Homo sapiens: one gene and its partners. The protein of the gene in region 3 purifies or fractionates together with the protein of the main gene of each other region. This does not show direct contact. Each region holds a gene or a part of one and is shown on either strand. Other genes may lie near its edges.

Region 1 (3,500 bases), about 110 Mb from region 3:
AGGATTTTTTCCGATTTTGGTATATCTGCATACTTACTGGTTGAACATCCCTAATCTGAACTCTGAAATGCTTCACTAAGCATTTCCTTTGAGCATCATGTCAGCACTCAAATTTTGAATTTTGGAACACTGTGGATTTCAGGTTAGGGACGCTCAATCTGTATTCTGTAACTTGAAACCAGGAGACATGGGCTGATGCTCTAACAGGAGGGTACTGACACAGCAGATAGAAAACAAAACGACATTGCTCTAGATATCTGGAGCCCCAGTTCTGACACCCAAGTAGAAATTTCTGGTTGATGTGAACCCTATCAGGCTGAGAATGTATCCCCAAATTTCCTTGGGAAAGCAATCCCAAATTATTTGGGATGCCATAACTTTTTCCTTAGTGGATATGCATTTTAATCCTCGGAAGATTTATAATTACTACAGAAGTGATGAAGCACAGCCCGGGCAACATGGCAAGACTCCATCTCTACAAAAATAAAAATTAAAATAGGTATGGTGGTGCAAGCTTGCAGTCCCAACTATTTGGGGAGGTAGAAGGATTGTTGGAGCCCAGGAGTTCAAGGCTGCAGGGAGCTATGATTGATTGTGCCACTGCACTCCAGCCTGGGCAACATAGTAAGACCCTGTCTTTCTTTTTTTAAAGGAAATGATGAAGCAAATTAAGCCTATATTTTAATTTTTTTTTTTTTTTTGAGACAGGATCTCACTCTATTGCCCAGGCTGAAGTGCAGTGGTATGATCTTGGCTCACTACAGCCTCGACCACCTAGGCTCAGGTCATCCTTCCATCTCAGGCTCCCGAGTAGCTGGGACCACAGGCATGCACCACCAGACCTGGCTAATTTTTTTTATTTTTTGTATAGATGGGGTCTCACTATGTTGCCCAGGCTGGTCTTGAACTCCTGGGTTGAAATGATTCTCCTGCTTTGACCTCCCAAAGTGCTGGGATTATAGGCGTGAGCCACCATGCCAGGCTATTTTAATATTTTTACATTAAGAAATAATCAGTACATATTTATATGTTAAGTTATTTATAATGTTTAAGAGAATTTGGCATATTAGAACTACTTAAGTATTTGGGAAGGTTTGTCTGAAAATTGAGATACTTAAGGAATTCAAATATATTAAATATATAACTGCATTTAAAAATACTTATGGGAATTAATTTCTTAGGGAAATGTAATTAATTAAATTGTAGCTCACCAAGCAATGAAAATTTGTTATACACACACAGATTATAAATGAGAAAAGCTTGTGTTTCAAATTTGTAACTTTAATAAATTGAATATTATGTTTTAAAACCAATAGTTCTGAATCTTTTTTTTTTTTTTTTTTTTTTTTTTTTTTTGAGATGGAGTTTCACTCTCATTGCCCAGTTGCCCAGGCTGGAGTGCAATGGCGTGACCTCGGCTCACTGCAACCTCCACCTCCTGGGTTCAAGTGATTCTCCTGCCTCAGCCTCCTGAGTTGCTGGGATTACAGGCACCTGCTACCACGCCTGGCTAATTTTGTATTTTTAGTAGAGACGGGGTTTCTCCATGTTGGTCAGGCTGGTCTCGAACTCCCGACCTCAGGTGATCTGCCTGCCTCGGCCTCCCAAAGTGCTGGGATTAGAGGCATGAGCCACTGTGCCCAGCCCAATTCTGAATGGTCTTTATTGTGCACAAAGTTTTCTGCACAAGACTGTGGACACTATAAAAACTCATATTAACATGTAAATTTCCAATTTTGAGACATGTTGCCCAACTGCTCTCCAGAAATGCTAAACAGCTGTGTGTGAGTGCCGTTTCTTCAATTTTTGTCCACAGTGGATACATTTTTTCAATCTTTTAAATCTTGGCCAACCAGACAGGGAAAATTGGCATCTCGTCATTTTAATTTGCAATTCTTTATAACGAATTTAGGTAAAACATCTTTTTATGATTAATGAATTTTTAAACATTTTTTAAAATTCATTTTTAAAAAGTATTGTTTCTTCAAAATTGTAAAAGCTGAGTTTGACTATATAACTGTGTAACAGAGAAATGGCATATTTTAAAGATTTTTTTCCTCCAGATTATGGTAACCCAATTTATCATAAGCATATAATTCAGTGGTTTTCGCTATAGAAATCACATCTATTGCATTTAACTTTTCCCCTTATTTTGAAATGTCCTATAAAATCCTTAAGCATTTTTATTATAGCAGCTGATTATATTACTCTTCTCTCTTTTTTTAACCTGGAAAATGTGTAGTTACATGTATTACTCTTAGATAAAGCTATTCCTGAATTGTCTGATAAATGACTATATTCTTATATCATATCAAGAGTTATCTGTCCATGCTTTAAGAGTAAATCCATTCTTTTTTTTCTACGAATATAAGTGTAAGATACTGACCAGGCCAAATGGGTAAACTGTGAATCAACAGAGCATGCTACCACTTCAGTATTTATAGATCTGAATTCTTCAAGTCTGTCGCCAAAAGCGATAATTTCAGTTGGACACACAAATGTGCTGAAAGGTAAAAAAAAAAAAATATTCAGTATTCTCCAAATAAGCATATACCTAAACTTTCAAATGACAATTTTTACAAATACCTTTAATAATAAAAATGCACATTAAGAACAATTTTATATTTGAACCTTTTCAAAATGGAGTAGTCTAAAAGACTGTCATTTAATCAAATATTTAAGACAGAAACATATTACAGAGTTCCCAACTACATCTCAATAAACTTTCTTATTACAACTTAATAGATCAGTAGTCAACCAATGTTCCCTTCTCCCTTATAGCAATAGCCACCCCTCATTTTATTACTTTTATTTAATAATACCTTTTATTTATATAGTATTTTATAGCTTTCAAAGGATCTATACAAATTTTATGTCATTTCACTATTTTTTTTTTAATATTCCTATACCAACCCTATGAATTAGATGCATCTATGTGTATTTTGGAGAGGAGGCAATGTTTTCCAGTACCCCCACCCCTCCTTTCTTGATAAGGTCCTCTTCCACCTTGTCTACCAGTCCTGTGCAGCCAGGGATTTTATACCTTAATACCCTCATGTTGTCAGGCCATGTTTACAGAATATTACTAGGGTGGCATTTTTTCAAACCGTGGTAGGGACTCCTTAAATTAACTGAGTTCTAAAAAATATTTTTAAAAAGTGAAATCGAATAGAAAACAGGAGACTCTATCATACATACTAAGGGTAAATTATGAAACACATATTTATATATACAAATATATATGTTTGTCTTCAACAGTGATGATATTCAAAATATTTAACAATCTTAACTCAAAGCTGGCTTTAGTTCTGGAGGTTTCTGAAAGGGATCAGGCAGGAGGACTAACTAGTTGGTGAGGAAAGGGAAGTGGCTATTTACCACATGATATGAGGGTTTTTCAGTATTTTAAGGAGCATGGCTGTGCTGGTGCATCCAGATGGAATGTTACCGTATATATATGTGCCTGTGTACTGGCTGACAACGAAAAATGTATTTCCTAC
Region 2 (3,500 bases), on a different chromosome or scaffold from region 3:
CTCCTTTGTCAAATGGAGATAGAAATCATCCCTACCTGGGAGGGCTTTGCACATTAGATGTGGTAAAGCAGATGTCTTAGTCCATTTATGTTGCTATAAAAGAATACTTGAGGCTGGGCAATTTATGAAGAAAAAAGGTTTATTTAGCTCACGGCTCTGCTATGAGCTGTAAGATTCAAGACTGGGCATCTGGTGACAGCCTCAGGCTGCTTCCAGTCACGGCGGCGGAAGGTGATAGGGAGCAGGCAGGTGCAGATCACGTGGAGAGAGAGGAAGCTGAAGGGGGTGGTGCCAGCTTCCTTTTAAAACCAGTTCTCATGGGAACTAACAAAGTGAGAACCCATTCACTACTGAGATGGCACCAAGCCATTCATGAGGGATCTACACCCATGACTCAAACACCTCGCATTAGGCCCCACCTCCAACATTAGGATCAAATATCCAAACCATAGCAGCAGGTAAAGCACATAGTCCATAGTCCCTGATTTCAGAAGTCACTTGTTAGTGTTATTTGTGTTTATCTTCTTAATCCTACTGTGACAGAGCAGACCTGAAAGGAATCATCATTTATTTTACAGATGAAGAAAGGGAGTTCAGAGTTTAATTAACTTGCTGAAGTTTCCATGGCCATTGAGTGGTGGAGCTGCATTTGAGAACAGTTTCTTCCACATCGCAGCTCATGTACTGGGTGTGTTCCCTAGTTACTTTGGAAATGGAATCAGGATTAATTCCACAGGGGTTTGGGTCAGGCTGTGTAAGTGCCTCCTCCCTCTTCCTCTACCTCCTCCCATCTCCAATGCCGAGTAATTTTCAAATGACTTTCAAGGGCAGCCTTGAGGGAAAAAACAAGTGACTGAGGTGCTCACCCCAAAGTCTAGCATGGAATCCAATATCACCTTTCCCAGGAAGCCCACACTTATCTCCACAGATAATCACCACCCCTTACCATGACACCTTATCTGTACTTGTCTTATAAAATCTGACTTCTCATTATATTATAGCATTCATATATGTGTTTTCTGTTGGACTGAAGCTCCTTGAGGGTAGGAGCTTTGTAGCCCCACCCCACCCCTGGCCCAGCACTGGGTTTTGTTCCCAGAGGCACTCAGCAACATCAGAGATGAATCCAGTGGTGAGAGGGTTTAGAGTGAGAGTGTTTGCTGGCAGCTGTCTCACCTCCTGTCTAGGAATGTGTGTGCCCAGGTCCTCCTTGAGTATCATTTGACATTGAATCTTTTAACATTTCTTGACTGCCTCCTCCTGCTGACCTTTAGCTGGCCACTGGGGAACTAAAAACACTGTTTCTACTCCTTAGGGTTTCCCTGGCTCGACCCGGAGAGCCCTATTAACAATAAACCAGTTTAGCTAGAGGCAGCCTTGAAATTCTGGCTCTCACACTCATAGTAGGGAAACCTTGGTAAATCACTTAACCTCCCTAATTCCCACTTTTCTCATTTGTAAATTAGTGATAATAGTTCCTGTCCCACCTTTCCCAGTGTGGTGAGGATGAATTATATAAGATGATGTGGGTTACCCACACTGAGACCACCACTAAGTCATGTTTGCTTCCTTCCCTCTTTCTTCCTGCTCCTCCTCCAGTGTCTGCCCCTTTGTTTAAACGCCTCTCCTGGCTGGGCGCTGTGGCTCATGCCTGTAATCCCAGCACTTTGGGAGGCCAAGATGGGCGGATCACTTACGGTCAGGAGTTCGAGACCAGCCTGGCCAATATGGCGAAACCCCGTCTCTAGTAAAAATACAAAAATTAGCCAGGTGTGGTGGTACACACCTGTAATCCCAGCTACTCTGGAGGCTGAGGCACAAGAGTCACTTGAACCTGGGAGGCAGGGGTTGCAGTGAGCCAAGATTGTGCCACTGCACTCCAGCCTAGACGACAGAATGAGATTCTGTCTCAGTAAATAAGTAAATAAATAAATGCCTTTTCTGTCTCCCTCGTACATTTCCTTCTGCCACCACCCCAGTGCAGGCCATTATGACCTTATTCTTCAACTGGTATAAGAGCCCCAGATTCTCTTTCTCTCCGTTTGAGTAACATTCCCAGAGCCTCGCTTGACCTTATTCTTTGTCTTCTCTCTTTTGCCTAACAAAACTCATGCTTACGTCAGCATCTCTCCTCTGCCTTCTGGAACTGGTGGGCAGCTTCTTTCCTGGCCCCCCACCCACTCTAACCCCTAGTTGTGGTCAGAAGGGCAGCTTTGCTTCTCTGCACACAGGTCACATTTCCTGCCTAGGTGCATTGGTTCCAGAAAGAAGTCTGCCAGGCAAGGCTCACCCCCATCCTTGTTTGGGGAGATGGCTCCCCTCCTCCCAGGCCTGCCTCCCTTCAAGCCTTCCTCCTTAGCCTCACCGTTCCTGCAGGCCTGGGCATACAGTGTTTGGGGGGCATTTGTCACACACTGCCCTGTACTGTGGTTATGGGTTTGCCTATCCTATCTCTTTATTTTAAACTGCCTTAGGACAGGGACTCTCTTATACAGTTTGTGCCCTCACATTGCCTTTTACATAACCTTGCATAAATACTTATTGACAAAATGAGATTGGATTTTATCCTTTCCAGTAGAGTTGGCAAAACCTGCTGTGTGTTCTTATGCTCACTCATGAAGCTGAAGGATATTTCAATTTGGGGAAAAAAATTATAATAATATGTGTGCTAGGCTGTGTGTAAAAATATGTGATTTTTGCTGAAGAGTTATGTTGGGTGACAGGTACTTTTTCTTCATCTGCTCATGCTGCTCTCCCAGATCTTATTCCCTTCCTAAACATTCACAGGCTTTGTTTTCTCTTCTTTATTTTAAAAGTCTGGAAGGCTCTTCTAGTGTCTCGTATGATGTTTCTTTAAGGTTTCATCTCTGGCTTCCGGGTGCTGCTTCGTTATTGCTGGTTATTGAATTTACACCTTGGCTTGCAAATCCCTTTGGAGAAACTGCTTCTCTTGTAAGCCGGCTCTGCACTGACCAGGCCCATGGGTGTGTTGAAGCACCTTCCTATCCCAAGCCATGCTGAATTGCACTCCTTTAATACACTGCCCCTTCTCATGCATTCTATAAAGCTCTTCTATATAAGTAATAATAAAAGTTTTGCTGCTTTGGCCATGTAAAAATTGTAAAATGCCACATGGAACACTAAATATCACATCACCCTGTGACAGATGTACTGATGTATTGGCAGAAGCTCTTGACTTGAACTGAAGCTTGACAGTCTTTACTTACTGATTTTTCTAAACTGTAAGACATCTTTTTTCTTTGACAACCGTTCTTATATTTTTTAAAGCCATCTCTTGAATGTCTTTTTTACCCATTCAAACAGTAAATTGGTTCATATAATCTAAACGCGCTAATAGAATGCCCTTTGACTCTGTGGCCTTTTCAAGCGTTCTATTTCAGAATCATCTTAACACAGTGATTTGTGAAGCAAAATGCATATAATTTTGTTTCAGATGAGACAGTTAAAAACAAGTCCAAGAGAACTTTTATGGTTTTACC
Region 3 (3,500 bases):
CAGAAAAAGTTGACTTTAGGACAATAAAGTGATTCAAAGGACATTACTAACCGAAAGGCTTTCCAGCTGTCCCCAAACATCCAACAGCCCCAGGCCTGTGGTAAAATAACCATTTAGTGTAGTATCATGATGGAAAATGCTACAGCAGCAAACAGACATATGATAATGCTGAATATGCATAAGGTAGCCAAAGGTACATCAGAATTTAGAAAACAGCCTAAAATTATTCTGCCTAATAAAAGCTTATCAAAATTGCCAGCTAGAAAATGCCTTACAGTTGAAGTCCTCTTATTGATGAAGATAGCATTAATTTTCTGGACAAGATTGTTCCATGTTTCTTTTGGGATGATCACATGCCTTTTTTGTTGATAGGAAAAGGGACAAATTTGAAGAACAGGTCTCTCTAATTCATATATCACCTCTGCAAAGATTTATTCCAAGTTAGAACAAGCTCACTTTGTCTTTGCAGTGACTCTCCTCCATTCTCAGGCACCTCATGACCAACATTTCTCACTAAGCATGATTTCAACAATCCCTTTGAGTATCACCTCAAAAGAGGGTAAGTATACTGACCTTCTAAACGTTCTACGAATAAGCGCTTCAAGCTTTGGTAAATCCCAATTTTAATGGTGCCATATGATGCTTGTCTTAGCAACGCAGGAGCAATTCTGAAAAAAAAAAAAGTAAAAAGTTATTCTCAACATTTTCAGATTATACATATCTAGATAGCCTACTTATTTGGACTACCCATCTCATTCTACCCAACAACAGCAGAATATGATTTTTTTCAAGCACTCATGAAACACTCAGCAAGAAACTGAACATTCTGGGTCATAAAACCAACCTCAACAAATTTAAAAGAACTGAAATCATATACAATATGTTATCTGACAATAATGGAATCAAACCAGAAATCAATAAGAAAAATCCTCAAACATTTAGAAATTAAACAATATATATCTAAATAATCTATTGGTCAGACCAAGTGTCTGTCAAAGGAATTTTTTTTTAATTCACAGGTCTAAATGACAACAAAATTCAACCTATTAAAATGTATGAGATGCAGCCAAAGCAGTGCTGAGGGAAATTTACAGCATGAAATGCTTGCATTTTAAAAAAAAAAAAGGGGGGGGGGGGGTAGAGTCTCAAATCAATAATCTATGCTCCTACCTCAAGAAACTAGAAAAAGAAAAGCAAAATAACCCAAAGCAAGCAAAAGAAAATAATAAAAAGCACAAATCAATGAAATTGAAAATAGGAAAATAGAGAAAAATCAATGAAACAAAAAGTTAGCTCTTTAAAAAAAAATCAACAAAATTGATAAACCTCTAGCAAGACTCACAAAGATAAAAAGACAGAAGATGCAAATAAGAAATGAAACAGGGACTAGCACTACAATTCCTGCAGCCATTAAAAGGACAATAAGAGTATGGTATAAACAACTTTATACTCATAAATTCAACACCTTAGAAGAAATGGACAAATTCCTTGAAAACCAGAAGCTACCAAAACTCAACTAGATAAAACAAATAATCTGAATAAAACTCATACCCATTGCAATGGACTGAATGTTTGTATCGTCCCCAAATCAAGATCTTAAAATCCTAACCCGCAATATGATGGTAATAGGAGGTGATTAGGTCATGAGGGTAAAGCCCTCATGAACAGGATTAGTGCCCTTATAAAAGGGATCCCAGAGAGCTCCCTCACTCTGTCTGCCATGTGAGGATACAATAAGAAGTCTTGGCAGTCTGCAACCCAGAAAAGAGACCTCAGCAGAACCTGACCAAACTGGCACCGATCTCAGATTTCCTGCCTCCAGAACTGTGAGAAATAAATTCCGATTGTTTATAAGTCACCCAGTCTATGGTATTTTGTTATAGCACCCCAAACTATGATAACCTTAAAGAATTTGCACTCTGAATTTAAATGTTCCCCAAAAAGAAATAGCCCCAGATAATTTCACTGGGGAATTCTACAAAACATTTTAAAAATTAACACTAAGCTTACACAGTTCCTTCCAGAAAACAGAAGAGGGAATGCTTCCCAACTAATTTTGGCTAGTATTACCCTGATACCAAAACCAGACAAAAACAGTACAAAAAAGGAAAACCACAGACTAATGTCTCTCATGAACTTAGATGCAAAACTCCTTAAGAAAATATTGGTAAATTGAATCCAGCAATGTATAAAAAGAATTATACATCATTGCTCACCTAATAAAGATTTTTTTAAAAAAATCAACCTCTACTTCCTAACAGTTGCAGATACGTCTTTAATCACATCAACAAGGAGGTACTAGAGCCAAAATTCCACCCTATTTAAGTTCTCCTTTAAACTGGAGACATTCTCATTCATACCTCCTTTGGGATTCTTCCAAATTGCAGAACTATACTGTAGGAGGTATAAATAGAAAGACAGCAGCAGCTCAAATGGTTAGGATTTTTAAATGATGACTAAATATGCATATTTCTGACTTTATTGCTTGCTATCAGAAAATATCTTGTGATGATCTATGCTGATGAAAGAACAAGGTGAAACAGATGATCCACAAATCAGGATGGTGGATCATCTTCAGGATGCTTCAGGATACACTACTTGATTTTTCCCCCAAGAAAATTACCTTTTAAATTAAGTCTAACATAGTTTAACGATGTAACATAGTTTAACAATAAAATTGATGTCTATTCTCTGAGTAATAAACTGGTAGCCTAGATGCAGGAGTGGCCTAGGAAACTGGCAACAGATAAACTACAAACTAGACAGTAAACCACAAAATTATGGCTAATCAAAAGGTGATGATAAAGATGGGTCTCCCTCTCTCTCATTATGCACTTTCTGTTTAAACTGCAAGAATAATATTTTTTCAAAGAGGAAAATTTTAAAGGAAGTCAGAATTTGCCAACTCAGGAGGGATATCACAAAAATATATATAATTAATTGGTGCTGTTATTAACAGTGGCTATTAGTGACTCTCGGGAAATCCACAGAAAGCCTATGCTGCAATGACATATCCATTTTAAAATGTTATTATCACTTATAACCAAATGAACACAAAATCCAAAGCTCAAGACTTACAAGCAGGAGAAATATAAACTGGCATATCAATACTGAATTACAAGTTGAAATGGTGAATATGAAACGGACACAAACTATCAGACAGCTGAAAACTATGGCTTCTTTAAAAAGCATTTCTGTTAATGATATAAGGAAAGAACCAGTCTCACCCTGAATAGAGAGCCAATACACCTTCCTCTTTACAGATGCGAAACAGCGCATGGAACATCCCTCTATATTTTATCTCTTTGAAACGGGCATCAATGCTTTGGCCTTGAACCTGAAGTCGTGTTTTGGTAAGGTCCACAGGGAAAGTCCCTATAAAGGAACACACTTATTTATAAGTATGTCCAAAGAATCACAGTTAAGTTGTTGCTAAATATAAGCCAAGGACAATATTTGAATCCTAAGACAAAGTCCTTTTTATAACACATAGAAGAGCT
Region 4 (3,500 bases), on a different chromosome or scaffold from region 3:
CCTCACATGGTATACCTTTCAGGTTCCACTATGGAAGAGTAATTTTCAAGTTCTCTGCCATTTTTCTAAAATTGTCAACATTTCCAGGTACTCTGGTAAATTTGTTTTAAGGAAAAGGAAGCTTAAAATGTGATAATTTCCTAATCAACACTTCGGTACTGCAAATCAAATCCTTAAAGATTTACCTTCATCATACATTTCCTCTATCAAATAGGCCTCTGCTCGATCTTTCAGGGCATTCACATTGTCAGGTTCCATCTGTAAAACTTCAGAACAAACCCTAATAGCTTCAACAGGCTTCTCGTCCTAAAAGGAAATGTGAGACAAGGATTTATGGTTGGTATTCCACATGTTGAGTTTTCACATTTCTGGGAACAAGTCAACTGTTACCTTAGAAAAGCAGTGGCAAATCCTCTCCTTTGAACGAACTGTATATTCAGCAATGCTTGGCTCTGTTTTCATGACAGATTCATATTTGCTGGTAGCATCTGTGTATCTAAGAAATGAGCAAATCATGATAAGAAATGATGACATTTGATTTCCAGAGCTGTAGAAAGGCTCCTCCCCTCTTCACCATGTGTTGCTTAATCAATCCAATTGGATGAGCCCATGGCTTCAGATTCGGCTTTTCCCTTATTAATCTAGAGTCCCATAGAAGGTACACTCCATAATTAAGAGTTAGGAAATAAAAACATATGACCATAGGAGATGCAGATGGACAGAACAAAGCATACCTGTGAGTATAAGTACCAATCAAACCAGAAGAATTTCCTTACAGAAACATTGCTCAGAATTCCAAACCTGAGTAAAACACCCTGTTGAAGTCTGACTTACACTGAGCACCTTGAACAATACAGAGATCAAGTTTTATTTCTTGGTCAGTAAACACTTCCATGAAAATAATGGAACCCATTACGTGCCATTTTATATAATTAATGTCAGTATTTACAACAAAGTACAACGTAGTTCACACAAAAGGTACCTGATTAAATTCCCAACTGTATAAGCTTTCTAAGAATAAAAGCTATTTCAGCATTTTCTTTAAACCAGTAAAAAGTACTAATCCTGTTATATACTCAGTTATTTCCCTCAACAATAGTAAAGTAAAAAATATGTTTCTATGCCATGGTGGCACACTATTCCCAAAGTGCTACAATCTTCATATGTAAATATGCCAATGTATTAAAACACAGGCTTAACTAAAACATTTAAAATAAAAGCCAGCTTCTCTATCATCCTCAGCAAACTAACGCAGGAACAGAAAACAAAGCACTGCATATTCTCACTCATAAGTGGGAGCTGAACAATGAGAACACATGGACACAGGGAGGGGAACATCACACACGGAGGCCTGTGTGGGGCAGGCAGCAAGGGGAGGGAGAGCATCAGGACAAATAGCTAATGCATGTGGGGCTTAATACCTAAGTAATGGGTTGATAGGTGCAGCAAACCACCATGGCACACGTTTACCTATGTAACAAACCTCCACATTCTGCACATACATCCTGGAACTTAAAGAAGAAAACAAAAAAGCCAGCTTCTGGGAAAGTGGAATAGATGTATTTGTCCCAAGTGCTCCAGCTAAGCACAACTAAAAAACCCTAGAGATTATATGTATATTTTTTAAAATAGAAAACTTTCAAAGGAGGAAAAGAGACAGACTAGCTAGTGACTCAGGACCTGAGGAAAACATGGTAAGACGTTCCCTGGGTTCTTTTTTTTTGTTTCATATATCCCAGACTTGGAGCTGAAGATTCCAGCAATGCAGAAACGCCAACAGGTACAGAACGACAATAACAAAAACCTGCAGAAGTCTGCTCTGTCTAGCCAGAGGACCTGAAAAGGACAGACTTGCAAACAGAAAACATTTTTTTTAGAGACGGAGTTTCGCTCTTGTTGCCCAGGCTGGAGTGTAATGGCACAATCTCGGCTCACCGCAACCTCAACTTCCCGGGTTCAAGCGATTCTCCCACCTCAGCCTCCGCAGTAGCTGGGATTACAGGCATGCGCCACCACGCCCGGCTAATTTTGTATTTTTAGTAGAGACAGGGTTTCTCCGTGTTGGTCAGGCTGGTCTCAAACTCCCAACCTCAGGTCCTTCAATGGATAAATGGTTAAACAAACTGCAGTAAATCCATACCATGGAAACTACTCAACAGTAAACAAGGAGGAATTATTGATACAATATGGATAAATCTCCAGACAATTCGAATGAGGGGGAAAAAAGCCCATCCTGCCAGCTGTGGTAGCATGCATCTGAAGTCCCAGCTACTCAGAAGGCTGAGGCAGAAGGATCACTTGAGTGTACTATGACTGTATCTGTGAACAGGTGGGCAACATAGTGAGATTGTCTCAAAAAAAAAAAAAGCCAATCCCAAAAGTTTATACATTGTATGATTCTATTTATGTAACATTCTTAAAATGACAGAATTCTACAAGTGAATAGATTAGTGGTTGCCACAAGCTAAGGAAGGGATAGGAACAAGAGGGAAGTAGGTGTGGCTATAAGGGCAACATGAGGTGTCCTTGTTGGGATGGAATTATTCTGTATCTTGACTGCACCCACGTCAATATCCTGATTGTGACAATGTACTATAGTTTTGCAAGGCGTTATAGTCTGCAAGATGTTGGGGGAAACCGAGTGAAGCATTCTCATGATGGCAACTTACAAAGCTACTAAAAGTAGAGGAATTGGAGCCTATTTTCTATTAGGCAGTTTTGTCTGCAGTGCCCTCTACTCTTTTCAGTCCTCCTGCCCAGCCTATAAACCCCCTACAAACAACACTCACACAGACACAGCCTCTTACTTCTGTCCACTTTTACTTATTCTTTAGGATTAGGATTTAAATATCTATCACCTTCTCTAAAAAAAAAAGCTCCTCTTTTACTCCTTGCCTTTACCATCCTGGTTTGGAGTAAATACTCCTCTTTGGTACTCCAATTATCCTATGTACATTCTATCACTTTGGTATCATATTGTCTTTTAATAATCAATTCATATATTTGTCTCCCACGCAATGCTATAAACTTCTTAAGAACAAAAACTATTGTCAAGTTTAAGTCTGCACCCTCAGTACATAGCTCAGCCTGATATAGGAGATAATAAATATTTGGTATAGTACAAGTAATTCTGCTGGTAAGGATACTACACAGTTACTATTATTTATATTCTTCCCTATTCCAAAAATGTCCAATTCTGGTAGTTTTGCTAAGGCCCAGGGCTATCTAGAATACCCCACCCTCAATGGCTGAGAAGTAAAAGAGCAGTTCTGTAGTTCACTTGTGCCCACAGCCCCGCACATAAGGAATGGCTGGACAGTTGGAACAACCATATTCTCACCTGCCATCTCTGATGAGCTCTTCAGCTGACTCAATCAGCTTATTAAGTTTCTTTACTTGTTTATAGTGTGCAAAACACCTTTTATGATCCTGGTCAAGTTTAAGACATTCCCGAACTTCACTGTTCATGTATTTAAAAAAGGAAAATACTCCATGTCAAA
Region 5 (3,500 bases), on a different chromosome or scaffold from region 3:
AAAACAGAACCTCTTTAAAACATAAATCTCGCAGGACCTATAAAACAAAAATACAATTAAAAAAACAAGGTATACAGGCAACAAATAGCACAATGAATAGAATGGTACCTCACATCTCAATACTAACATTGAATGTAAAGGGCCTAAATGCTCCACTTAAAAGATACAGAACTGCAGAATGGATAAGAATTCACCAACCATCTGCTGTCTTCAAGAGACTTACCTATCACCTAAGGACTCACATAAACTTAAGGTAAAGGGGTAGAAAAAGATATTCCATGCAAATGGACACCAAAAGCGAGCAAGAGTAGCTATTCTTATATGAGATAAAACAAATGTTAAAGCAACAACAGTTAAAAAAAGACAAAGAGGGACATTATATAATGATAAAAGGCCTTGTCCAACACGGAAATATTACAATCTGAAATATATATGCAATAATGGAGTTCCCAAATTTATAAAACAATTACTACTAGACTTAAGAAATGAGATACACAGTAACAAAATAATAGTTGGAGACTTCAATACTGCACTGATAGCACTAGACAGGTCATCAAGACAGAAAGTCAACAAAGAAACAATGGATTGAAACTATACCCTGGAAAAAATGGACTTAACAGATATTTACAGAACATTCTACCCAACAACCACAGAATATACATTCTATTCATCATCAGTGCATGAAACTTTTTCCAAGGTAGACCACTGATAGGCCACAAATCAAACCTCAATAAATTTAAGAAAACTGACATTATATCAAACACTCTCTCAGACCACAGTGGAATAAAACTGAAAATCAACCCTAAAAGGAACCTTCAAAACCATGCAAATACATGGAAATTAAATAACCTTCTCCTGAATAAGTCAACAATGAAATCAAGATGGAAATTTAAAATGTTTTTGAACCGAACAACAACAGTGACACAACCTATCAAAACCTCTGGGATACAGCAAAGGCTCTGCTAAGAGGAAAGTTCATAGCCCTAAATGCCTACATCAGAAAGTCTGAAGGTGCACAGACAATCTAAGGTCTAACCTCAAGGAACTAAAGAAACAGAACAAACCAAACCCAATCCCAGTAGAAGTGAAATAACCAAGATTAGAGCAGAACTAAATGAAATTGAAACAAACAAAAAATACAAAAGATAAATGAAACAAAAAGCTAGTTCTTTGAAAAGATAACATAAATAGACCATTAGCAAGATTAAACAAGAAGAAAAAAGAGAAAATCCAAATAAGCTCAATTAGAAATGAAATGGGAGCTATTACAACTGACACCACAGAAATACAAAAGATCATTCAAGGCTACCATGAACAACTTTATATGCATAAAGTAGAAAACCTAGAGGAGATGGATAAATTCCTGGAAAGATACAACCCTCCTAGCTTAAATCAGGAAGAATTAGATACCCTGAACAGAACAATAGTAAGCAGCGAGATTAAAATTGTAATAAAAAATTGTCAACATAAAAACGTCCAGGACCAGACATATTCACAGCCAAATTCTACCAGACATTCAAAGAATTCGTACGAATCCTATTGACACTATTCCACGAGACAGAAAGAGGGAATCCTCCTGAAATCATTCTATGAAGCCAGTATCATCCGAATACCAAAACCAGGAAAAAAACATAACCAAAAAAGGAAACTACATACCAATATCCCTGATGAACACAGATGTAAAAATCCTTAACAATATACTAGCTAACCGAATCCAACAATGTATCAAAAAGATAATCCACCATTATGAAGTGGGTTTCATAACAGGGATGGTTTAATATAGGCAAGTCAATAAATGTGATACACCAGATAAACAGAATTAAAAATAAATATTACATGATCATCTCAATAGACGCAGAAAAAGCATTTGACAAAATCAAGCACCCCTTTATGATTAAAACTCTCAACAAAATCGGCATACAAGGGACATACCTCAATGTAATAAAAGCCATCTATGACAAACCCACAGCCAACATAATACTGAATGGGGAAAAGTTTAAAGCATTCCCTCTGAGAACTGGAACAAGGCAACCATGCCCACTCTCACCACTTCTATTCAACATAGTAATGGAAGTCCTAGTCAGAACAATCAGACAAGAGAAAGAAATAAAGGGCATCCAAATCAGTAAAGAGGAAGTCAAACTGTCGCTGTTAACTGATGATACGATTATATACCTAGAAAACCCCAAAGACTCCTCCAAAAAGCTCCAAGAACTGATAAAAGAATTCAGCAAAGTTTCCAGATACAAAATTAATGTACACAAATCAGTTGCTCTCTTATATACCAACAGCGACCAAACTGAGAATCTAATCAAGAACTCAACCCCTTTTACAACAGCTCCAACAAAAATAAAATGCTTAGGAATACACCTAACAAATGAGGTGAAAGATCTCTACAAGGAAAACTACAAAACACTGCTGAAAGAAATCATAGACGACACAAACAAATGGAACCATACCCCACGCTCATGGATGGGTAGAATCAATACTGTGAAAATGACCATACTGCCAAAAGCAATCTACAAATTCAATGCAATTCCCATCAAAATACCACCATCATTCTTCACAAAACTAGAAAAAAAATCCTAAAATTCATATGGAACCAAAAAAGAGCCCACACAGCCAAAGCAAGATTAAGCAAAAAGAATAAATCTGGAGGAATCACATTACCTGATTTTAAACTATACTATAAAACCATAGTCTCCAAAACAGCATGGTACTGGTGTAAAAACAGGCACATAGACCAATGGAACGTAATAGAGAATCCAGAAATAAACCCAAATACTTCCAGCCAACTGACCTTCGAGAAAGCAAACAAAAACAAAGTGGGGAAAGGACACTCTATTCAAAAAAATGGTGCTGGGATACTTGGCAAGCCACATGTAGGAGAATGAAACTGGATTCTTATCTCTCGCGTTATACAAAAATCAATTCAAGATGGATCAAGGACTTAAATCTAAGACCTGAAACTATAAAAATTCTAGAAGATAACCTCAGAAAAACCCTTTTAGACATTGGCTTAGGCAAGGATTTCATGACCAAGAACCCCAAAGCAAATGCAATAAAAACAAAGATAAATAGGAGAGAGGTTCCAAGATGGCTGAATAGGAACAGCTCCAGTCTACAGCTCCTAGCATGAGCGATGCAGAAGAAAGGTGATTTCCGCATTTCCAACTGAGGTACCAGGTTCATCTCATTGGGGCTTGTCAGACAGTGGGTACAGGGCAGTGGGTGCAGCCCACAGAGTGTGAGCCGAAGCGGGGCAAGGCATCGCCTCACCCGGAAAGTGCAAGAGGTCGGGGAATTCCCTTTCCTAGCCAAGGGAAGCCGTGACAGATGGCACCTGGAAAATCGGGTCACTCCTACCCTAATACTGCGCTTTTCCAACGGTCTTAGCAAACGGCACACCAGGAGATTATATCCTGCGCATGGCTTGAAGAGTCCCATGTCCACGGAGCCTCCCTCATTGCTAGCACAGCAGTCTGAGATCCAACCGCAAG
Region 6 (3,500 bases), on a different chromosome or scaffold from region 3:
CTCTAGCATGTAGTTAAGAAAGTCCAGAGAAAGGTAAATACTACAGATATGGATGTGATGATTTGATAATCATTAACTTATGGTGGATGATAAGCTGAGACTGTAAGTACAGTCTCTAAGAAAGCTTAGGGGGCTGGGTGCGGTGGCTCACGCCTGTAATCCCAGCACTTTGGGAGGCTGAGGTGGGCGGATCACGAGGTCAGGAGATCGAGACCACGGTGAAACCCCGTCTCTACTAAAAATACAAAAACCTAGCCGGGTGCAGTGGCAGGCGCCTGTAGTCCCAGCTATCCGAGAGGCTGAGGCAGGAGAATGGCGTGAACCTGGGAGGCGAAGCTTGCAGTGAGCCGAGATTGCGCCACTGCACTCCAGCCTGGGTGACAAAGCGACACTCCATCTCAAAAAAAGAAAAGAAAAGAAAAGAAAAAGAAAGCTTAAGAAGCTTACGTTTAATAAGAGAAGAGTTGACCTGGTGAAGATGAGTATTTAAGAGATAGTGGGAGAATCAACTTAGCAATTTATCTTTTGTTAAAAGAACTATCCATTTCTTTGAAAGGTTCTACATCTGGGCCATAAAGCTGGATACAGTTATTATAATGATTTTCATATTTATTATACTTGCTTATTCCTCAAGCCAAATACTTGTTTCTGCTCATTTTTCTTGATTAGGCTTGCTAGATAACTGTCTAATCTTAAGCAGTATTTTCAAAGAACTAGGTCTTATATTTAATTCTAGTATTTCTCTGACTTCAAACTTAATTAATTAGTTTGAAGGCAATGTAACAGTGGCTCAGGGCAGGGCTATGGAGTCAGACTAACCCAGATTAGATGCTTCCCTGACTGTTTGACTTAGAGCAAGTCCTTTAGTACGTCTTAGCCTCAGCTCCTTCATCTGCAAAATAGAAATAACCACCCCCAGATACCTTCACAGGGCTACTGTGAAGAATAAAGGGTATAAAGCCCTGTGCACAGAAAAGGATTGTTAAATGTTAGTATAGGCTTATAGGCTAAAATCGCAGTGTTTTTTTGTTAAATTTTTCTATCTGCTTTCTTTAAGCTTATCTTGGCCTTCACAGTACTTCCCAGCTTCCAAATACCTTCATAAACCTCATTTCTTTTGATTCTCCATCCTCCAAGGTAGATACAAGGCACACTGTGCCCACTGTACACATGGGGAAATAAACTCAATGTTAATGAACATGTTTAAGGTCACAAAACAAAGACATAGCACAGCCGGGTCTTGCCACAGCAATGAAGAACATGGTACATTTGTCACAACTCCTTCTGCCAATGCTGGGTCCTAGTAATGAACAGTTTAGGTATAGCAGTGTCTTGAAACTTCTTTCCTCTCCTCCTAAACCTCACACACAACTGACCTTAAGAAGAGCAGTTTCAGCACATTGACGAGGACAAAAGCTAACCATAGAAGGTCCAAGAGAGAGTGGAGTGGTGGAGGCAGTCCATATGAACATCTCCTTTGAGGAATTCTGCTGTAAAAGGAGGCAGAGGGATGGGGCAGTGGCTGGAGGGGTGTGTGGTCATCTTAGTTGCTTGTATTTTCAGGATGGTAGTTTTATTAAGACCATCTGTATGCTGACGGAAGACAAGAGGAAATGAGAGCCAGTGAACAGAGAGCTGAACTAGGCAGAGGCACCGGCCACTCATCCACCACAACAGGACAGAAGGCAAAATCTACCAGTCCATCTGCGGGCAGGCCAGTAGCTGGGGTGGTGGGGAGCAAGGAAGTTGTTTTCTCACTGCTTCTTAGTCAAATAAGATGACAGTCGTCACCTCCAAGGAAGGAGAGAAGGTGGCATTGGCAGTAGCATGTATTTCTCACACATCCATGTGTGTGAGAAAACTGACTGAAAGCTTATAAGTGGCAAACCCATGGCCAATTTATAAGGAAATCAACAGCTGCTGGGTAGCACTTATCACTCGACCACCTAGTTATAACAGACAGCACACTGAGCTACTTGAAAATAAGGATGACTGGGCTTTTCCCTTGGATGAGCTACAACTTAAAAGTAGAGTGCCAGATATTTATTGACAATCCTAACCCCAGGTATAGGGTAAACCTGCGAAGAGAAGACAGAATTCTTGTGGCTGAAAGAACTACCTGAAGGCCAGGTGGCTGTGTGGTATCAACTTGTAGTGCCTTTTGCTTTTATCAATTTCTGCACTTATAAGACAACCACAGGTGGCCAGGCGCGGTGGCTCATGCCTATAATGCCAGCACTTTGGGAGGCCGAGGCAGGCGGATCACGAGGTCAGGAGATCGAGACCATCCTGGCTAACATGGTGGAACCCTGTCTCTATTAAAAATACAAAAAAATTAGCCGGGCGTGGTGGCGGGCGCCTGTAGTCCCAGCTACTCGGGAGGCTGAGGCAGGAGAATGGCATGGACCCAGGAGGCAGAGCTTGCAGTGAGCCGAGATTGCACCACTGCACTCCAGCCTGGGCAACAGAGCAAGACTCCATCTCAAAAAAAAAAAAAAAAAAAAAGACAACCACAGTTGACATCATATACTGCATTGCTCAATGGCCCCGAAATATGGTCCCAAGTGGTAAATTCCTTTGAGAGTGTAATAACAGGAAAAATGCTCTGAAGAATTTATATGCTTCATTTAATGAAATGAAATATTCATCGGTACCTGAGATGTATTATCGTAAAGCAAATTGAAAATAGACACTGCCTGCTGATTATTAAATTATAAAGTAAACATATAATTAATCCATAGGAACTAAGGATCCACAAAAGCCATCTTAAAGAGACAGAAGTTTTTTGTTTTTTAACAAAGCTTGAATGTAATAGGATCAAAGGTATCTTAACCCACATACAAATATAAACATATGTAAAGAATCAAAAGAAAAGGAATTCACTGCACGGGATGGAAAAACAGGCACAGTAGCAAATTACATGGAACAGAACAGAAGAAGGATGCCTTAACCAACAAAACAGGCCTTCCCCACAAAGGCCAGTTACTTAGCATAAGGTTATAAACTAGATTGAAGATGCATCAGATGCTCAAAGTGACACATACTTTTAAGAGCTAAAAGCTTTCTCATAAGCCCACACATACTGGCAGACAACATCAACTCCACAGGGAATGCTGAAACAGAGCTAGGCACTGACATGAAAAGATTAGTGACAAGGGAACACAGAGTCACTGAGAACATTGCAAACACCAGCAGGGAAGAGTTGCAAGAGAAGACAACTGGTCTTCTTGTGCAGAGGTGGTCCTGAGATGCACCAACTGATTCCTAAGTGAGAGTCTATGGAAAGAATGCCAGCACATGTGCAGTGTAAGTCCACTGCATGGTGCTGGACTCTAAATCAGACAAAACATTTCCCAAATGAAACTAGGGTTAGCATGGAATGAGACTATCGGCAATCTTAAAAACAGACAGCTATTGATTTCGGTTCTTTCTGATTACATCAGTTGTTCAGCTTATGAAAACGTATTGAGCTATCTACACTTAGGACATATGCACTCTCC
Region 7 (3,500 bases), on a different chromosome or scaffold from region 3:
AAGTGTGCCTTCCTGATTGTAACATAGCCACATTTAATCCTTGTTGAGTACTTACGATGGGCAAGGCATTATTCTACATCTGTCCATCCATATGTTAACTTACATAATCCTCCCAGCAACCCTGTGAGATAGGTACTGTCATTATCATTATCTCCATTTTACAGATGAAGAAACTGAGGCACAGAAAGGCTAAGCAGTTGAAATTTGTTTTATTCCTACTCCCACACACCTTGCTAAGAAGTGTCTTACATGTTAGTGAGTCAACCAGGTAATAAGTGGAGCAATCAAAGTGCATCTGCCCCTAGTGCCTGTGCCACTAACCACGGAGCAGCCTTCCATGCTGCCTTAAGCGAGCCACTCTGTATCTGAAGGAAACCGCATTAGAGCTGTCTGCATGGTTGCTTAACAAATGACTTTTTATATTCTCCAGATTGTACGAACAGATCTGAAAGAGTTAAGAGATTTCAATTTGGATGGTGCTCCTTATGGTTACACTCCTTTCTGTGACAGCCGAAGAGAAATGGACGGCTACAGGTTCTGGAAGTCAGGGTACTGGGCCAGTCATTTAGCCGGGCGAAAGTATCATATCAGGTACTGAAAAGAAGCACTCCTAACACTGTTACGGGGTTTTCCTTAAAATTGATTTTGTGTGGTTAAAATTGTGAATAGGTAATACATTGGTATGGTTGAAAAATAAAAATGATAAAAAATACACAGTGGCTGGGTGCAGTGGCTCATGCCTTAATCCCAGCACTTTGGGATGCCAAGGCAGGTGGATCACCTGAGGTCAGGATTTCAAGACCAGCCTGGCCAACATGGCGAAACCCCGTCTCTACTAAAAATACAAAAATTAGCTGGGCATGGTGGTGGGCGCCTGTAATCCCAGCTACTCGGGAGGCTAAGGCAGGAGAATTGCTTGAACCCAGGAGGCGGAGGTTGCAGTGAGCTGAGATCACGCCGCTGCACTCCAGCCTGGATGACAGAGTGAGATTCCATCTCAAAAAAAAAAAAAAATACAGTGTAAAAAAAACTTCCTAATCCTGTCTCTCTCTTTCCTACTCAGTTCCTGTTCTCACAGCAGATAACCTCCCAACTTATTGACTGTCTATCCTTCCAGATTTTCTTAATTCTTACAGAAACAGCTGTGAATGTGTATTCTTTTTTTTTTTACACAAAATATGCTACCTATTTATACATTTTGTAACTTGGCTTTTTTTTTTTTTTTTTTACTTAATGTCATATACATCTTCTCAGTGAATAGAGAGAGACCTGATTCCTTTTCATAGCTGCATATTATTCCAGTGTGTGAGTGTTATTTATAGTTTTCCCTGTGACCTACAATGTTGCAATGAATAATCTACTAAATAATTTTTCATATCTCATATATTTGTGAGATAAATTCCTAGACGTAGACCTTTTAGGTCGAACAGTGTGTGTGTTGTTACATTTCTAATGAGCACCCCATTCTCTTCTCTGCGAGAAGTGTGATTTGAAGATGTGCAGGGAAGAGGAACGTGTAGGAAGCGGCACATGCAGAGATCACTGCTGGGGTTTAGTGATGGTGGCTTCATTCTTTACATTCCTGGTCCAAAAGAACTGTAAGGACTGTAACACTCTGGGGTTTTCCCCCCCCTGTAACATTGAAGACATCATCAGGATATCATTGAATAATGGTTGTTTATCAGTTACTATGGCTTTTGTTACTGCCGCATATGCTAGAAATCTTTGGTCTGAGATTATTTCTTTCGGATGGCAAATACAGAACAGTAACAAAAGCATAGCACAGTATAGATTTTGCAGTGACTTTCTTAGAGATCTTTAAAGTAGCACACTTTAACTCCACTGTAGGGCTGTAGCATACCTTTTCAAAGAAAAGCCAGAATATTTGGCTAGTGGCCTGTTCCATTATTCATTGGGTTTAGTTTTCCTGTCGTAATCCATGGTTGGTTGTAACAAGCGGGTCTTCTTTATTCAGTGCACTATATGTTGTGGATCTGAAGAAGTTTAGGAAAATAGCTGCTGGTGACAGACTCAGGGGACAGTACCAAGGTCTGAGTCAGGACCCTAACAGCCTTTCAAATCTTGATCAAGTAAGTGTCCATTTTTTATGGTTAACTGTGAGTGACGGGTATACAGTGTTGCATCAGAAAATGAAGTATTACTTGTGTCTTCAGTCCTCTCCTCACAGGATGGCGTCTTGTTTTTTCATGGTGTGTGTGTGTGTGTGTGTGTGTGTGTGAGAGAGAGAGAGAGAGAGAGAGATTTTTATCTGCCCTCAAGACATATCAGCGTGAAAAATGTCATAGATTTGATGCTGGCTGGGGAGAGAGATGGAAGGAGAATGCTGCCTCTCTGAACCATTAGCATATCTTTGTATTTTGTACTCAAACTAATCTCATAGGTTTGTTTCTCTACCTACTAGGGTCAGTTTGTTTTTCTGCTGTAGGAACTAAATAGCTCAGGATTCGTAGTATAGAATCACAGTATAGTATCACAGCTTCCCCTTTTTCTATGTCAGAAACCATGATGTGTTTCAAGGCTAGCTAAATTACTGTTTGTTAATGTTAAGCATTTTTCAGAGGTGAGATTGTAGTTTAAGGGTTTTGGATACATATTTCACATATTTTAAGCATTTTATTTTGCTTAAGTCTACTTAAATGTTTTTAAACCTTTATTGTGATATGTAGCATCCATAAAGAAAAGTATACAAAAAACATACATACATATTCACATACATCCAGGAATTATTATGAAGCAAATACCCAGATACCACAACCTAGTTCAAGAACTAGAACATTATCAGCATCCCAGAAGCCATCCTTCCTCCCTAACAAAAGTGTCTAGCATCACGACTTTTATGGTAATCATTTTTGTTTCTTTATAGATTTACTGTTTAAGCATGTATCCATAAACACTAGTTTAATTTGCTCATTTTCTTCTCCTCTATCTCAATGGAATAATAAAAGGTAAACTTTTTTGTTTGTTTGTTTGTTTTGAGACAGAATCTCACTCTGTTTCCCAGGCTGGAGTGCAGTGGCATGCTCTGGGTTGCACTCACTGCAACCTCCACCTCCCGGGTTCAAGTGATCCTCCTGCCTCAGCCTCCTGAGTAACTAGGATTACAGGCACGCACCACCACTCCTGGCTAATTTTTGTATTTTCAGTAGAGACAGGGTTTCACCATGTTGGCCAGGCTGGTCTCAAACTCCTGACCTCAAGTGATCCACCCGCTTTGGCCTCCCAAAGTGCCGGGATTACAATCACGAGCCACAGTGCCCGGCTCTACTTACTTTAAAATTTGTGTGATACCTGGTATCTTCTAATTTATGGAGCTACTATGGATCTGATTCTGTTGTATTATTTCTGTTATTCTTTTGTTCATACTGTCTATCACATATTTGTTTATCTTCTGTAGTGTGTCAGGCGTTGTTTTTGCAGAATTATTTTGGGGAATAATTTGAGTTCAAAAATGGTATCACCCAACAGTATTTGTTTCTCTC

What was found.
Region 1: the proteins of SLC25A14 (region 3) and PRDX4 purify together in Homo sapiens (affinity purification with mass spectrometry; one large-scale study listed by BioGRID and IntAct). This does not show direct contact.
Region 2: the proteins of SLC25A14 (region 3) and PPIC purify together in Homo sapiens (affinity purification with mass spectrometry; one large-scale study listed by BioGRID and IntAct). This does not show direct contact.
Region 4: the proteins of SLC25A14 (region 3) and DNAJC3 purify together in Homo sapiens (affinity purification with mass spectrometry; one large-scale study listed by BioGRID and IntAct). This does not show direct contact.
Region 5: the proteins of SLC25A14 (region 3) and UGGT2 purify together in Homo sapiens (affinity purification with mass spectrometry; one large-scale study listed by BioGRID and IntAct). This does not show direct contact.
Region 6: the proteins of SLC25A14 (region 3) and TTC13 purify together in Homo sapiens (affinity purification with mass spectrometry; one large-scale study listed by BioGRID and IntAct). This does not show direct contact.
Region 7: the proteins of SLC25A14 (region 3) and UGGT1 purify together in Homo sapiens (affinity purification with mass spectrometry; one large-scale study listed by BioGRID and IntAct). This does not show direct contact.

The regions. Positions count from the first base shown.
Region 1 is NC_000023.11:23,673,993-23,677,492, reverse strand, and holds part of PRDX4 (peroxiredoxin-4 precursor), read right to left. Parts: intron 2,504-3,500; coding exon 2,387-2,503; intron 1-2,386. UniProt on the Homo sapiens protein: Thiol-specific peroxidase that catalyzes the reduction of hydrogen peroxide and organic hydroperoxides to water and alcohols, respectively.
Region 2 is NC_000005.10:123,030,226-123,033,725, reverse strand, and holds part of PPIC (peptidyl-prolyl cis-trans isomerase C precursor), read left to right. Parts: intron 1-3,500. UniProt on the Homo sapiens protein: PPIase that catalyzes the cis-trans isomerization of proline imidic peptide bonds in oligopeptides and may therefore assist protein folding.
Region 3 is NC_000023.11:130,346,419-130,349,918, reverse strand, and holds part of SLC25A14 (brain mitochondrial carrier protein 1 isoform 1 precursor), read right to left. Parts: intron 3,376-3,500; coding exon 3,228-3,375; intron 669-3,227; coding exon 574-668; intron 96-573; exon of another isoform or gene 52-95; intron 1-51. UniProt on the Homo sapiens protein: Transports inorganic anions (sulfate, sulfite, thiosulfate and phosphate) and, to a lesser extent, a variety of dicarboxylates (e.g. malonate, malate and citramalate) and, even more so, aspartate and glutamate and tricarboxylates.
Region 4 is NC_000013.11:95,760,639-95,764,138, reverse strand, and holds part of DNAJC3 (dnaJ homolog subfamily C member 3 precursor), read right to left. Parts: intron 3,461-3,500; coding exon 3,341-3,460; intron 497-3,340; coding exon 391-496; intron 307-390; coding exon 186-306; intron 1-185. UniProt on the Homo sapiens protein: Involved in the unfolded protein response (UPR) during endoplasmic reticulum (ER) stress.
Region 5 is NC_000013.11:96,043,402-96,046,901, forward strand, and holds part of UGGT2 (UDP-glucose:glycoprotein glucosyltransferase 2 precursor), read right to left. Parts: intron 1-3,500. UniProt on the Homo sapiens protein: Recognizes glycoproteins with minor folding defects. Reglucosylates single N-glycans near the misfolded part of the protein, thus providing quality control for protein folding in the endoplasmic reticulum.
Region 6 is NC_000001.11:230,968,862-230,972,361, forward strand, and holds part of TTC13 (tetratricopeptide repeat protein 13 isoform a precursor), read right to left. Parts: intron 1-3,500.
Region 7 is NC_000002.12:128,181,700-128,185,199, forward strand, and holds part of UGGT1 (UDP-glucose:glycoprotein glucosyltransferase 1 precursor), read left to right. Parts: intron 1-430; coding exon 431-591; intron 592-1,975; coding exon 1,976-2,090; intron 2,091-3,500. UniProt on the Homo sapiens protein: Recognizes glycoproteins with minor folding defects. Reglucosylates single N-glycans near the misfolded part of the protein, thus providing quality control for protein folding in the endoplasmic reticulum.